Regions from separate parts of the Homo sapiens genome. Here region 1 is linked to region 2. Evidence: fine-mapped expression QTL. Tissue or cell type: whole blood. Region 2 holds a variant in brackets; the other region holds the start of a gene. All regions are shown on one strand. Distances are from middle to middle.

Region 1 (2,609 bases), 710 kb before region 2:
TACCACACCTGGCTAATTTTTCGTATTTTTGTAGAGATGGGTTTTGCCATGGGACCTGGACAAGTGAAAACTTTTCTGAGCCTCTAGTTTCTCTCTGTTTCTCTTTTTTATGTGAAGCATTTTCTCATCTGTAACTTGGGCCTAACATATAAAGGACTTGGCATCACACCTAACTATAAGGAAGTAGTCAACAAACTGGCCTGGCACAGTGGCTCACGCCTGTAATCCCATCACTTTGGGAGGCCGAGGTGGGCGGGTCACCTGCGGTCAGGAGTTCAAGACCAGCCTGGCTAACATGGTGAAATCCCATCTGTACTAAAAATACAAAGATTAGTAGTCCCAGCTACTTGGGAGGCTGCGGCAGGAGAATGGCATGAACCTGGGAGGCAGAGGTTGCAGTGAGCCAAGATCGCGCCACTGCACTCCAGCCTGGGCGACAGAGTGAGGCTCCATCTCAAACAACAACAACAACAATTATCCGGGTGTGGTGGCACACGTCTGTAATCCCAGGTACTGGGGAGGCTGAGGCAGAAGAATTGCTTGAACCCAGAAGGCTAAGGATGCAGTGAGCCGAGATCCCGCCACTGCACGCAAGTCTAAAAAGAAATAGTCAAAAAACAGTAAAGATACTGTTATTACAGGCGGGGAAAGGGAGGCTGAGAGGGGAAAGGACTTTGCCGACAAGCTGAGTACAGGGCTGAGGGCCCGGCCTCACACCCTCGGTGAGGGGGGACCTTGTGCAATGGAAGGAAGGAGCACTTCCTCCCTCTTCGGAGCTGCAGCGACTGATTTCCTTCAGGCCCAGGAGGGCAGATGCCCTTTAGCCTCCTGCCGCTCCCATCACTGACCCCTCCCCACCTCTGCGTCTGGAGGGCAGGGGTGCCTGGACACTCCAGGCAGGCGACAGGTGACAGGTGATCACGCCCCCTCAACGCCGCCGGGGCCCACAAGGCCCCGCTCCCTATGAGTTCAGTCCTGCCCCAGTGATGACCCCGGCCTCACGGTCCCGCGCCCCCCACTCAGCCTCCGACCCTAACAATCCGCACCCCTTCTTCAGTACCCACCTCCGCGGTCCGCGCCCCCTCCTCGGGCCCCGCCCCCAATGCTCCGCGCCCCCTCCCCGGGCCTGCCAGCACTCAAATATCCGGGACGGCGGTGGCACGTACCCCCGGGCCCACGTTATGGGAGAAGGAATGCACGACGCCGCCGGGCCGCACGTCAAACGCCACCGTCGTGGGCTCGGACACCGCCTCCGCCGGCCTCAGCGCCACGGCCCCTAGGAGCAGCGCGGCCCACAAGCTCGCGCCGACGCCGTTCCACCCTCCGCTGGGCGCCGCCATGTTGGACTAGGGTCCTCAGGGCAGGGGCGGGTAGACGGGGCGCGGCGAGGGACACGTGGAGCGTCCGCCGGAGGCCACGTCGGCGTCGGCTGTCCACGTGACCCGGCACGCCCCGCCCTGTCCACCGCCCGGGGCCACCATCTTGGGGGCGGGACTTTGTCGAGGGGGCGGGACTTTTGCCGAGGGGGCGGGGCCGCCGAGGGGGCGGGGCCGCCGAGGGGGCGGCCTCGTACCCTAGGGACCCTGCGTAGCCCGGCGATCCTTGGAGGGTCCCTCAGGTGGTAATGGAGTTCGTTTTGGGGTCTCAGGGTCCCTCACCAGCCGTGTGACTGACTGCAGCTCTTTCAGTTAGGAGATGTACAGGGAGTGAGGGAAATCGAAGGTCACCATTAGGCGAACTTCTCATAATCGTTGCAGCCAAGATGTGTGTGCATCGATATTCAAAATTAGCAGAGGGAAAGTAGGATGAGAAGCAGGATGCTTGCTTTTGTTTCCCTCTTGTTGCCCAGGCTGGAGGGCAGTGGCGCGATCTCGGCTCACTGCACTCTCCGCCTCCCAGGTTCAAGTGATGCACCTGCCTCAGCCTCCCGAGTAGCTGGGACTACAGGTGTTCACCACCACCCCTGGCTAATTTTTGTATTTTTAGTAGAGACAGGTTTTCACCATGTTGGCCAGGCTGGTCTTGAGCTCCTGACCCCAAGTGATCCGCCTGCCTCGGCCTTCCAAAGTGCTGGGATTACAGGTGTGAGTCATCACGCTCGATCAGTCTGTGTATTTGTTAATAGGATTATGTGGGTGTTCACTTCCTGGCTTTGATAACCTGGCTTGTCCTAGGGGTTACAGACGATGTTCACATTAGGGGGAGTTGGATGAAGCGTATTAGGAAACCCTACAGTTTCTGCAGATTTTCTGGGAGGCAAAAATTATTTCAAAATAAAAAGTTAAAAAGAAAATAATCCCTACCTCAAGGAGTTGTTGGGAGGAGTAAGTGAGGGAATTAAGTTCCCACACCGGGACGAATGAACTGAGAATTATATATTGTAGCTATTGCTATCATTAGATCCCAGGTTTTCAACTAGAGAAGGAAGTCATTCTTTGGTTACAAATGGCTTAACATTTCAAGAAAACACCAGTGGCCAGGCCTGGGGGGTCAATAATTAAGCTGGTGTTTCTAGTCCTTCCCAACTGGCAAAAAACAGAATCCAGAGAGAAAACGTCATAGATGACTCCTAAGATGGGTTATAATTCACCCTTTGAGGAATTAAATCA
Region 2 (2,757 bases):
TTTTTAGTAGAAATAGGGTTTCACCATGTTAGCCAGGATGGTCTCAATCTCCTGACCTCGTGATATGCCTGCCTCGGCCTCCCAAAGTGCTGGGATTACAGGCGTGAGCCACCACGCCCAGCTCGGGCCTGGCTAATTTTTTATAGGGACAAGGTCTTACTATGTTGCCCAGGCTGATCTCGAACTCCTGGGCCCAAGCAATCCTCCCACCTCGGCCTCCCAAAATGTTGGGATGTCAGGCAAGAGTCACTGCACCTGGGCAGAATCACCAGTTCTTTGATGCCCATGTCTGCACTCCTACTCTCTCTGTCCTCATTTGTTCATTTATTCACTCAACAACCGTTGTGTGCATGGCCCCGTTCTAGACACTGAAGACTCAGCAGAGATCAAGAGAGACAATATTTCCTGTACTTCTGGAACTCATGGAAGCTGGAGAGAGACAGAATTTGCAAGTAAGCAAAATAAATCGATCATTTCATTGTTGTTGTTGTTGTTGAGATGGAATCTCACTCTGTCGCCCAGGCTAGAGGGCAGTGGCGCAGTCTTGGTTCACTGCAACCTCCACCTTCCAGGTTCAAGCGATTCTCCTGCCTCAGCCTCCTGAGTAGCTGGGACTACAGGCGTGCACAACTACGCCCAGCTAATTTTTGTGTTTTTAGTAGAGATGGGGTTTCACCACATTGGCCAGGCTGGTCTTGAACTCCTGATCTCAAGTGATTCGCCCACCTTGGCCTCCCAAAGTACTGGGATTACAGGCATGAGCCACTGCACCCCGCCAAAAATGATCATTTCAGACAGTGATAACTGATGAACAGAAGTGAAACTGGGTGAGGTGGAAAAAAGTGATAGGTTGGAGGGATGCAGTTTTAGCTGGGGTGGTCCGGGAGGGCCTGTCTGAGGAGGTGACATTTGAGATGAGACCTGAATGATCAGAAGGAGCCAGCTGTGAGAACATGTGGAGGAAGGGTGTTCCAAGTAGAGGGAACAGTCTGTGCAAAGGCCCTGAGGCAGGACAGTGCCTGGGGCATTGGAGGAACAGTGAAGAGGCCTGTGTGGCTGGAGCAGAGTGAGGAAGGGGAGAGAGGGAGAAGGGGAGGGCAGGGAAGGGGCAGGAGGACAGGTCATGCAGGGCCTTGTGGGTTGCAAAAAGGACTTGGGGCCGGGCACGGTGGTTCACGCCTGTAATTCTAGTACCTTGGGAGGCCAAGGTGGGTGGATCTCTTGAGATCAGGAGTTCAAGATCAGCCTGACCAACATGGTGAAACTCTGTCTCTACTAAAAATACAAAAATGAGCCAGGTGTGGTGGCAGGCACCTATAGTCCCAGCTACTCCTGAGGCTGAGGCAGGAGAATCGCTTGAACCCAGGAGGCG[G/C]AGGTTGCAGTGAGCCGAGACTGTACCACTGCACTCCAGCCTGGGTGACAGAGCGAGACTCCATGTCAAAAAAAAAAAAAAAGGGACTTGGGCTTTGACCCTGAGGAAGGTGGGAACCATGGGGGGCTGCGGGCAGAGGAGGGACAGGCCCTGACTCAGGTGCTCACAGGCACCCTCTGGTGGCTGCAATGGGGAGGACAGACTGCGGCAGGTAAGGGTAGGAGCCGGGGAATCAGGACTGAGGCAACTGCACGAGTCCAGGTGGGCAGTGATGGGGGCTGGACCTGGTGGAGACCACAGAAGGAGGAAGAGGATGAGGTTATACACATTCCACCTCACCTCCCTCCACCATGAGTGGCTCACCTGCAGGGCAGTGGCATGTCCCCAGCACCACCAGCACCACAAGCTCATGAATCCCCAGAGTCACTGCAGCTGCAAAACTCTTAGCTAGGAGTGCCCTCAGAGGCCCAGAGATGTCCAGTGTCACCCGCAGGTCGCCCGATGAACTGGATGCAGAGCCAGAACTTGTGCCCTTGGTGCCACCTCCCCTCTGGCTCAGCTGTGCTCTGCCATCTCTTCCAGGGACAAAGATTAGGAGTTTGTTTACTGATACTATTTTTATTGATCTTTTTTTAAAACAAGTGCTCAGCAAAAAAGATGCACTTAGCCAAACTGCTCCTATGATATCTGTGGGAATTCCTCTAAGCTGTCCCAGGCGTGGGGACTATTGGGTGGCAAAAGCACAGAACTTGATCTCTTCAGATTTCTTTTTAATTTATTATTATTATTATTATTATTATTATTTTTGAGACGGAGTTTTGCTCTTGTTGCCCAGGCTGGAGTGCGGTGGTGCCATCTCAGCTCACTGCAACCTCCAGCTCCTGGGTTCAAGCGATTCTCCTGCCTCAGCCTCCCGAGTAGCTGGGGTTACAGGAGCCCATCACCACTCCCAGGTAATTTTTTGTATTTTTAGTAGTGATGGGGTTTCATCATGTTGGCCAGACTGGTCTCTAACTCCTGACCTCAGGTGATCCACCCGCCTCGGCCTCCCAAAGTGCTGGGATTATAGGCGTGAACCACTGTGCGTGGCCCAGGTATTTTTTAAATTTTATTTTAAGTTCCAGGATATATGTGCAGGTTTGTTACATAGGTAAATGTGTGCCATGGTGGTTTGCTGCACCTATCAACCCATCATCTAGGTATTAAGCCCTGCATGCATTAACTATTTATCCTGATGCTCTCCCTCCCCCGATTCCCCCAACAGGCCTCAGGGTGTGTTGCTCCCCTCCCTGTGTCCATGTGTTCTCATTTTTCAGCTTCCACTTATAAGTGAGAACATGCAGTGTTTGGTTTTCTGTTCCGGTGTTAGTTTGCTGAGGATGATG

What was found. PIP is the estimated chance that this variant, and not a neighbour inherited with it, causes the effect.
Region 1: MYDGF starts here. The variant in region 2 is fine-mapped to the expression of MYDGF in whole blood (TOPMed, PIP above 0.99).

What each region holds. Positions count from the first base shown.
Region 1 is chr19:4,668,995-4,671,603 of GRCh38, forward strand. It overlaps MYDGF (myeloid derived growth factor), which reads right to left and starts at 1,348. Exons shown (of 6, transcript NM_019107.4): 1 at 1,167-1,348. The coding sequence starts at 1,340. RefSeq lists a silencer at 1,348-1,737.
Region 2 is chr19:5,376,117-5,378,873 of GRCh38, forward strand. No RefSeq gene overlaps it. Among named protein-coding and RNA genes, the nearest start is that of PTPRS, 37 kb to the left of the region's middle. The variant G/C (reference allele first, on the strand shown) is at 1,373.